2 separate regions of the Homo sapiens genome follow, and region 1 is linked to region 2. Evidence: fine-mapped expression QTL. A gene starts in region 2. The other region holds a variant in brackets. All regions are shown on one strand. Distances are between the middles of the regions.

The links. PIP is the estimated chance that this variant, and not a neighbour inherited with it, causes the effect.
Region 1: its variant is the best candidate, but not a certain one, in a credible set for the expression of SLC18A2 in whole blood (INTERVAL, PIP 0.54).

Annotation. Positions count from the first base shown.
Region 1 is chr10:117,325,022-117,330,396 of GRCh38, reverse strand. All of the region lies in intron 2 of PDZD8 (PDZ domain containing 8), which reads left to right. Among named protein-coding and RNA genes, the nearest start is that of PDZD8, 48 kb to the left of the region's middle. The variant G/A (reference allele first, on the strand shown) is at 2,134.
Region 2 is chr10:117,238,840-117,244,214 of GRCh38, reverse strand. It overlaps SLC18A2 (solute carrier family 18 member A2), which reads right to left and starts at 3,101. Exons shown (of 16, transcript NM_003054.6): 1 at 2,995-3,101; 2 at 2,401-2,536; 3 at 1-244. The coding sequence starts at 2,521. It overlaps SLC18A2-AS1 (SLC18A2 antisense RNA 1), which reads left to right and starts at 2,218. Exons shown (of 3, transcript NR_184310.1): 1 at 2,218-2,330; 2 at 2,432-2,554; 3 at 4,034-5,375.

The DNA of each region.
Region 1 (5,375 bases), 86 kb before region 2:
ATTTCAAAGGCAGATGAATTTGATTTTACATATCTTAAGTAGTAAGGCATGGTTAGATTTCCCTGTAGGAGTGTTCTGCAAACTCTTGGGGTTTTAGAGGTAGCAGGGGGAAAATGAGGACTGAAGATTAGATTTGGAAGTCGTGAAAATTGAGGAAAATTGAGTTCTGCATGAGGATGTTTCTGAGGGGGGTTGGGAATATAGAGAGGAGGTGAGCATGTATAAAAGGTCAACCAAGCCTGATTCTTTTAACAACAGGTGAAGTGGTATTTGACCCCCTTCAAGTGCAGGGTTTTCCTTTCAAATTAAGTTTAGTCACCAAAGGAAAAAAAAAAAACAGATTTTTCCCTCCCTCCCTCCCTCCCTCCTTCCCTCCCTCCCTCCCTCCCTCCCTCCCTTCCTTCCTTCCTTCCTTCCTTCCTTCCTTCCCTTCCTCCCTCCTTCCTTTCTTGAGACAGGGTCTCATTCTGTCACCAAGACTGGAGTGCAGTGTCTTGGTCTTGCCTCACTGCAACCTCCACCCGCCAGGCTCAAGCAATCCTCCCACTTCAGCCTCCCGAGTAGCTAGGACTACAGGCATACACCACCATACCCAACTCCTTTTTGTATTTTTTGTAGAGACAGAGTTTTGCCATGTTGCCCAGGCTCGTCTTGAATTCCTGGCCTCAAGGTATTCACCTACTTTGGCCTCTCCGAGTGCTGGGATTACAGGCATGAGCCACCATGCCCCATCATTTTGTACTTTTCTTTGTAGAAATGACTTTCTTATAGCATGAGCATTGGGAATTACTTTCCTTTTCTCATTGGTTTCATCTTTAATCCATTTATACCTAGTGTTCCATTATTGGAACTCTAAGCTTGTGGGAGTTATTTATATCCTACTGCTCAACGTCATCGCCAAGGTCTGATTTTTCACAAAAAAATTTTTCAACCTCCGGTATAAATGGGTTAATCATGTAAACGATCTTAACATGTTTCTAGGTGGTGTTTGTATTTATGCTTACTGGAAGGTTTCAACATACCTTTGCCTTTAAAAGAATACTTTGAACTTGGTAAGAAATTTCACAGAGGTAATAGCTCTTTCAGGAGATAGACGGCAATTTAGAGGAGATAAAAGGCAATTTCTTTTGCTTTTTTGTTTAGTAGTACTGACTTCCCTTTGGAAGTAGTAGTAGTAGAAATTTATTTATACTCATTTATTGCATATTTAACACATGTTTGTTTATATTTATGCAAAATATTTATTAGCCAGTGATTGTTACTGCTTGCTTCTGGTCATTATATAATTTGAATGGAAAGCCTGTCTTTGTTTAAGATTGAACTGTAAGAAATGTGAAATGAAAAGTTATCCTTTTGTTTAAATGTAGAGATTATAATTCACCTTAAGCTAAAGCAAATGTCGTCTATATTCACCTAACTGGCTGGTACTCACGTTTCCAGTGGGAACTCCTTTCTGGCATTTCTTCAGAAATTTCCATGTTTTTCAAATACCAAGAGGAGATATCAGTCAAGGCCTGGTGCTGTGGCCCACGCCTATAATCCCAACACTTTGGGAGGCTGAGGAGGGAGGATTATATTTAATTATAGATCTAATTGGCTTTTATTTATGATTCATGAATTAAGACAGCTTCTGTTCTGCAAATAGAATGAAAACTCCCACTGGGCATTGGCAAAACAGTGGGTTTGGTAAGGTAGAAACAAGGAAATAGAACAATAGGAAAAAAAAAGACTGATTGGTTAACATAAGTTACTTTTTCGTAAGAGAGTTTGAGGCAACATAGTGAGACCTTCTCTCTACAAAAACATAGAAAAAAAAAATTAGCTGGGCATGGTGGCTCGTGCCTGTAGTCCCAGTTATTCCAGAGGCTGAGGTGAGAGGATTGCTTAAGCCTGGGAAGTCAAGGCAGCAGTGAGCCATGATCACAGTGCTTCACTCTAGCCTGGGCGACAGAGCAAGACCCTGTCTCCAAAAAAAATAATAATAATAAAAAAAGAGAGATCTTAAGAAATCAGGAAAATGCAGGGGAGGGGGGAATATTGTAATTCTTCTGAGAATTAAAGCTTGACAGTCAACATAGAGCCACTGCTGGTTGAAGGAATCCATTGATGTCAGGTCAAAAGCAGGCACAAGAA[G/A]CACTGACATAGGGAATTAGGTCCCAGAAACCAAATCTGGAACTTGTAGGAGAGAAACAATCACATTCTGAACAGTTAGTCTTGAGTATAACTTTGGTGATGGGAGTCATTCTTGCAAACAAAATAAATAAGTTGGTGCACATATTATACTTTATATAAATCCTAAGAAATAATTTTTTTTTCCAAGAAATAAGTTTTGGAGCAAAACAAATCCTTAAATTGGCAGATTGGACAGATGCTTCTGTGTAGTGAAGCTAACCTTTGTAGGAGACACTAATGTTATTTTATTAGAGTGGTAATAATGCTTGTGGGTGTTTTCCAGTATTTGAATATCCACTAAAAGCTACAGTTCTTTATATATACTTCAACAGAAGAAATGTAAAGAGAAGATGTGAATGTTGCATAATTCTGTGACAGAATAAAAAAGTAATCTAAAAATCAGAATTAATAAAAGCCATATCCATTTCAAAGGTAAAACCAAATTCAGAATAATTGGACAAAATATTTTCATCATGGAAAAAAGTAAATGTATGTGAAGCAATGTGTACCCTAACACCTGTCAAAAGACAATTATAACATTTAATTATAGATTGAATTGGCTTTTATTCATGATTCATGAATCAGGACAGCCTCTGTTCTGCAAATAGAATGAAAACTCCCACTGGGCAATGGCAGAAAGAACAGTAGGTTTGGTAAGGTGGAAACAAGGAAACAGAACAATAGAAAAAAAACCTGATTGGTTAACATAAGTTACTTCTTGGTAAAGATTAAAGCACAGGGGACTGACTTATGCTAACTCAGGTAGACTGGAATCACCTGTTTTCAGGAAAAACTAGTCTGTTGGCATCTATTTGCTTATATGGCATTTAACATTACAGAGACTGTATTTTGATTTGGTCTGTTTTGTTAGGGCCTAATGCAGGAGCTTAGTCCAAAACAATGGCCTCCCATAATTTTTGTTTAACAATTCCCCCCATTTGGTCACAGTCTCACCTAGGTGAGATCCTTTAGTACCCCTAGGTGAGAGTCTGACCAAAACTTAGGGCATTAGTGCTACTTTCAGTTTCTATCATTCTGCATTGCCAGTTTCAACATGCCATTCATGGATTACAGGGTCCTCATGGTCACTCATTTCTTTGAGTTTTTGTTGTTCCAGCCAAGAGAGACCATTTGACGTTTCACGGATGGCTGCATGTAAACATTCAAAGCATTTGAGAGAATACAGTGCATAGGGAGACTACTACTATCAGAAGGATAGTATGAAGAGTTTGGAGTATGTTCCCTAAGCAGGGTCCCCATGAACCAAAGCAATCAAATCAGATAGATCAAAGAATGAGCTATATTAGAAGTCTACCCATTTTAACCAAGTCGCCTTTTGTTAATTTTTTGTACCTGAGTCTCTTTAATACCAGATGTATTTATCCATCTGTAACAAGAAGTGTCTGCAACTGCACAGATGCCTCCCTGTTCAGCTAGTAGGTAGAAATTCTATTATCCAGCTTCCCATGACTGTGCTAATTTAAAACAAGGAGAGAGAATGAGTGGTTCTAGAAGTCTAACTCTATGCAAGGGACCACTAGTTCAATTTGAACAAACAGTTGTATTAGAGATGTTGCTAAAGTTAACCACTAGGTATATTAAAGGATCTCTTAGGTCATGTAAAGATTTGGGTTTGACATGACAGATCCAGCACTTCATCAAGTTACCTACAGAAGCTGTTTGATTGTGGAATTTTGATTACAGCATTATCCTGCGCCAAGCAAAAGAGGAAAGCTTAAGCAAGGCATTAAGAGAGGTGAGAGTCTCATTATGATGAGGAGGCTTGTTCCAAAGTCTTGGGAAAAGCTATCCACAGCACAAAGCTATCAACTTCTTGTCCTGGTTCACTGTTTTAATGTCTCTGGTTATGGCATAGGGTGATTTGCTGAACTCTGTGTGGCCCACACATTAGGCATGAAACTTGTCTCTTGAAATTTATATTGATTTGTCTAGCTTCACCTTATAGGGATTAAAGAACAGAGCAGTTATTATTCTTAGTTGGAGAGTTGTATGGAGCCAGATATTGGAGGTGTATTAGTCCGTTCTCATGCTGCTATAAAGAAATATCCAAGACTGGGTAATTTATAAAGAAAAGAGGTTTAATTGACTCACAGTTCTGCATGGCTGGGGAGGCCTCAGGACACTTAGAATCATAGTGGAAGGGGAAGAAGAAGCAGGCACCTTCTTCACAAGGTGACAGGAGAGAGATTGAGTGCGAGCAGGGGAAATGCCAGACACTTACAAAACCATCACATCTTGTGAGTCTCACTCACTATCACAAGAACAGCATGGGGGAAACCATCCCCACGATCCAATTACCTTCACCTGGTCCCACCCTTGACATATAGGGATTATGGGGATTACAGTTCAAGGTGAGATTTGGGTGGGGAAACGGAGCCAAACCGTATCAGGAGGAAACTAGAAGAATCCAGGATCCAGTTCAGTCTATAGGAAGATAATAAAAACTTACAGTGAACCAGGCTGTAATCTAACAGATGAAGTGTGGATTTTTTCATAGTTTTGGCTGGGCGTGGTGGCTCATGCCTGTAATCTCAGCACTTTGGGAGGCTGAGGTGGGCAGATCACTTGAGGCCAGGAGTTTGAAACCAGCCTGGCCAATATGGCGGAACCCCATCTCTGCTAAACATACAAAAATTAGCCAGGCATGGTGGCACGCGCCTGTAATCCCAGCTACTTGGGAGGTTCAGGCACAAGAATTGCTTGAACCCAGGAGGTGGAGGTTGTAGTGAGCTGAGATTGCACCACTGCACTCCAGCTTGGGTGACAGAGCTAGACTCTGTCTCAAAAAAAAAAAAAAAAGTTGGCTTTTCTGGAACTTTTGATAGGTAATCTCAAATAAGTCTTTTAGACTTTTAAAAGACTCTCAAGGCTGTGAAGCCAAACCCAGGGCTCACCATTAAACGTCACCTATAGTACTTAATAGATTATGGTGAATTCCTCTCTGAGGTCCCAAAAATATCCTGAGTTTCCTGGGCCTGTCAGGAAGTGACATTTTTCACCCCGCTATAAGACCACCGGCTGGGCTGTTGTATTCAAGGTACCAGGCCAGTTTTTCCATGGTGGCAGTTGGGGAGAGGGGTGACAGAGGTGTTAATGGCGCCACAAAGTCAACTTTAATTCCTTGAAGTTGTCTGGTCATATCTGAAAATACGAGATTCCAGTCAAAGCTTGGTACTAGTGTT
Region 2 (5,375 bases):
TTGTCTTCACTGGGACAGTCGGAAGGAACAGCGGACGCGTTGGTCACCATGTGCTGTGTGGCGGTCTGATGAAGTGTCAGGTCTCTGGTAGCATTCCCGGTGACCATAGTCGAGTTATCATAATAGGAGAAGATGCTCTGGAAGCTGTCTGAGATGGAGGCAGTGTGCACTGGCCTGGCCGTCTGGATTTCTGTAGCATTCTTCTCATGCTTAATGCTGTACAGATAACTTGGGATGATGGGGACTGGGGATAAGAGCAGAATGGCAAGGTGGTGATCACACTGAAACCCTCTCCAGGAAAAAAGCCAGCAAAAAACTATGGTTGTGTCGGCAGGGAGCAGTGGCTCACACCTGTAATTCCAGGACTTTGGGAAGCTGAGGCAGGTGGATCACCTGAGGTCAGGAGTTCGAGACCAGGCTGGCCAACATGGAGAAACCCTCTCTCTACTAAAAATACAAAAATTAGCTGGGCGTGGTGGCACCCACCTGTAATCCCAGCTCCTTTGGAGGCTGAGAAAGGAGGATCGCTTGAACCTGGGAGGTGGAAGTTGCAGTGAGCAAAGATTGCACCACTGCACTCCAGCCTGGGTGACAGAGTGAGACTCTGTCTCAAACAAACAAAACAACAATAACAACAACAAAACTATGGTTGTGTCAAATGCCAGAAGAGGTCCAGAGGGTGACAGGTCTACCCCAAAACAGGAGCCCTGTGCCATATGTCTATAACGACATTGGAGCAAGTTCACTTTACTTAGCTCACTAGAAAGAACCATGCCCCCAACGGCCCTGAGAACTGTCTCCTCTCAAAAGGCAGCTGCTGTGCTGAACTGACTGGTCCCAGAGATTCTGTCATTTGTGGGTTTCTTCCACATTGTTCCTTCAAGGAATATTTCAGAAAAGCAAAATGTGGCCTGACGTTAAGAGAGTGCTGACCTGGAGTCAACCAGTGCTTCTAAGAAAGAGAGGCTCAAAAGACTTTCAAATGAATGAATCAAGGAAACAGAAAACTACACTTCATTATGTGTCTTAGAAAAAAATTAACCTGCAGGAAGTAATAACTTGGAAATTCTGCAACAGGCCCACTTCATCCTTCTATTATGAGTGGGAATCTGTAATTTTTCCTACAACTTGTAAGATTTAAGAATTCCTAAGGCTTTCACAAGGAAAAAGCAAAACTGAAACAGGCCAGGCACGGTGGCTCAGGCCTGTAATCCCAGCATTTTGGGAGGTCGAGGCGGGTAGATCACCTGAGGTCAGGAGTTCAAGACCAGCCTGGCCAACATGGCAAAATCCTGTCTCTAATAAAAATACAAAAATTAGCCAGCTTTGGTGGGGCATGCCGGTAACCCAGCTACTCGGGAGGCTAATGCAGGAGAATCACTTGAACCCGGGAGGTGGAGGTTGCAGTGAGCCAAGACTGTGCCACTGCCCTCCAGCCTGGGCAACAGAGTGAGACTCCATTTCAAAAAAACAAACAAAAACCAAAATAAAAAGCAACAACAAAAAATACAAATTAAATTGTGAAACATATAATCGAAGCTGTGAGCACATGTGTCCAATGGAGCATTCGAGCCGAAGCAGAACTAATGCCGTTGGTACTGAACAGGGATGAGCTCCACGGCTCTGATAACTCCTCGAGATGAAACCTATCAGATGCTCTGAAAACTGCTGTGAGAAAACCTGCAAATGGAGAGAAAGGAAACAGCTCCCACCACTTACAGTCTAAATGAGTCGTGATTTTTTTTTCATTCATTAAAAACTGGGATTTTTTTTTTTAAGGAAATGCATGCCAAATACTTCTCTGTTAATGGGCCTAATTAAGGGACCTGGATTTCGATTATTTAATTTTTCAAAATTCCACTATAGGAAAAATAATAGAACCAAGATTGTTCAAATTGTTCTTGCAATGGTTCCTGAAATATTTCCATCTCAAGTCATTCACTAATACAGTATATCTAAATGTCTTGTTTTTGGAGTAAGGGATCGAAACTTGCTCTTTTAGGTACTACACCAAATTACTAACCTGCCTTTTCGAGTAGCCCAATAATTATTCTAACACGTAATTTTGAACTTTAGGAATTTCTCTTTTGGAACAGAAATCTTTTTCATCGCAGTGAAAGCAGGCAAGAGGATGCGGGAAATTATCAGGGGGAAACATAAGTTCTGGGTCTTATCGGATGTCACAGTTTTTGACCCGAGCATCAGGAAAGCGAAGCCACACAACGCGGCTCCTCCTAGCCCCGGCGCGGCAGCCTGGAGGGGATGTCTTTTTTGCAAAGCGAGTTCTCCAACTTTCCCGGGCCTTGGCGGAGCTCCGGGACCGCGCAGGGGTAAGTGGAGTGCCGGGGAAGGGGCGCTGGGGCTGGGGTGCCGGGGCAGGGGTGCCCTGTCCGCACGTACCCACGACAGTGAGCAGCATGTTGTCCAGCAGCAGCGCCAGGAACACGATGAACAGGATGAGCTTCCGCGAGCGGCGGCTCTCCTGCAGCCAGCGGACCAGCGCCAGCTCGCTCAGGGCCATGGCTCCGGGGCTCCGCTGCGGGCGCGGTGCGCGGTGAGGACCCAAGGCGGCCGTGGACCCCCCATTCTCCCGTCCCCCAGGCCGCGGAAGGGCGGGTCAGGGAGCCGCGCGCACCGGCATCCGGGGACACCCCCGGGCGCCCCAGCCTCGGCTCACCTGCCTCGAGCGCGTCCCCACGAGAGCCCGCGCTCCCTGGAAAGAGCGCCCGCGAGCGCCGTCGGGGACCCAATCTGGAGACCCAACCTAGAACCCCCAGGACGCTGCCCTGATCCCCGCCGCCCCCAACTGTGCCACCTCCCAAACTGCACGCTCGGCCCCGTGCACCTTGCGCCCTGCGCCCTGCGCCCCGGCTGCCCCGGGGTCCCCGCAGCCCCGCCCGCGTAGCTCTGGGGGCCTCCCTGCCTCCCTGCCTCCCCCGGGCCCGCTCCCCTCCGGCACCGCGCCCTGCGAGCAGGGAACCGGGGCCGTGTTACCTCGGGGTCGCTTGCGATGCCTGCCCGGGTCCTCCGTGCCCGCGCCAACGCCCGCACCGCAGTGGGCTCCGTCAGTCCGGGCGGCTCCGGGTCGCAGTCTCCGCCCCAGCGCCCCGCCGCCGCCGCTCAGTTTACCCCGTCCGGCTCTGACGTCACGGCCGGAGGGAGCGGGGGCGGGGGGCTGGGGCGCCCCGGCCTCCGCCCGCCCGCGCCGTCGCTGCGCAGGAGGGGCTGCCGCCTCCCTGTCCCCGCCTCGGCCGCGGCCGCGCCTCTTCCCCGGACCCAGCGCGTGGCCGAGTGCCTTGGGGACCCAGGCCTGGGGAAGAGGCAGGGGCGCAGAGGGAAAGAGGTCAGAGAGCCTGGACGAAGAGTGAAGGGCCAGGGACCAAGGCGAGGAGGCACGGACCAGGGCTTTCTTGTGGCTCCAAGTGGTGGCTCGAGCTGCTTTGAATAAATCACGTGGCTCTTTGAGCCTCAGTGTCCCTGAAATGGGCCGTGAGGACGGGAATGATGGCCGCGGGGTGAGATCGCCAGGGGTGACAGGTGCTGGGAGCCAGGGACAGGCTTCCCTTTCCTGAAGAAGCCACCCTTTGCACCCACCATCCCCTCCCCTCTCCGACCTCTGCAGCCCGATGCGGGGTGCCACTCGGAGGAGCCTTTGAGCCTTGGGCATCCTCAAGCTGGTGACTTGGAAACGGGGGGGGGAAGGGGACACTTTTCAGTGTCGCCCTATGGTGGGAGTTGGGGAGGTGAGGGTCCCAGGTCTCAGAAAGTGGGAGCAGTGGGTTTGGGCCTCTGGGGCCACCTGAGCAGGGGACCCTGGAGGCTAGGTGAGTACACCTGGCCTCAGAGAAAGGGCTAGGGGGCGGGCTGTGGGCGGGGCAGCAGGCCTAGGCCCTGTGTCCTGTACTCTCTCCCCACCATGCTGTGCCTGGGCGTCTGGGTGAGAGGTGGTTCCTAGAGCCAGGGGCCTGCGTGTGGCTGGTGCAGAGCTGTCATCCTCACTGCTAAGGGCTAAGAGCCTGCCTTTGATTTCCAGGTCCCTTTTATAAGCAAAGGAGAAACAAACAGATGCCCTCTGACATCGCTGGAGCTCTGCAGGCCCTCCGAGGGGACCGTGGGAGCAAGAGCTGTTTTCTTGAAAAGCTACCTAGAATAAATGTTACCCTGTCACAGTCTCTTAGCAGAAGAGTGGGCTTGTTTTATTAATGTTAGCTTGTTGACAGCAGGAGGCCACTGAGAACAGCAGTGTGATGTGTGGCTGCCCCCGCTCTCTCCACCTCCCTACTCCCTTGCAGAGACCCCCTGTGCTTCTCATTGCTACCCCATGTGTGAGAAGAGATGGTTGAATAGGTAAGTAGGTCAGGAACATGGGTCTCCAGGATGTCACAGGATGTGCACAACTTAAACATTAAACAGGGAGGACAGAAGGAAAACCACTTAGGAGGAGGAAGCAGATGGCAGAGAGCCGTTTAAGATGGCAGGAGGGTATCACTCAGGGAGTGCCCCAGAGTGCTTGCTCTGGAGTTTCAGAACCCAAGGATGCAGACTCTACCCCAGGGACCACATGGGGACAGAGAGGCATTATGGTAAAGGGTGCCTGCCAGGATGCCCAGGTCCCAGTCTGCTACTTCCTTGACTGGTGGCCTTGGGCTGGTTATGTATCCTCTTTGTGGCTTAGTTTCGCCATCTCTGGAATGGGGATACTCACTGGACCTACTGCAGCGTGGTTGTGAGAATTCCAGGGGAATGCATAGGCAGCTCTTAGCACAGTGCCTGGCACAAAGTGAGAGCTCCGTAAGTGCCGGCCCCTCATTCATGCGCTGAATATGTGTTGAGCTCTTACTACGTGCCAGGCACTATGGTTAATGCTGGGGAGACAGTAAAGCCTAGACAAATCCCTGCTGACATTCTGACCTGATAGCAGCATCATAGCAGTGAACACTGGAAGCCACACCAAACTCCAGCCCAGCCAGCTGGATGTAGATGGCTCCAGGGACAATGCCAGCCCGGCGTTCCCGCCTCCGGATCACTGTCACCACCCCTAGAGCACTATGGCCTATAACAGACTTTTTGTTGAAACCCCCTAAAAAATGTTTAACAATATGTTTGCCTTACACATTTTCAAGTTGGCATCTAAAATGAGTTTTTTAATCATATATTTAAATAGGGTATATTGTATTTATTGACCTTTATGTATAAAATTATTATCTCTCTCTTTTAAATATACCCAAAGGAATTTGTATAAGAATACAAAACTGCCATGTTATACTTAAGAATATAAACAAGTATCCCTTTAACAGTCAAAATATTTACATTGTGTTCTTTACCCCTTTTAAGTATGTTTCCATTCCGTTTTCCAACAGAATTGTATCCTACCC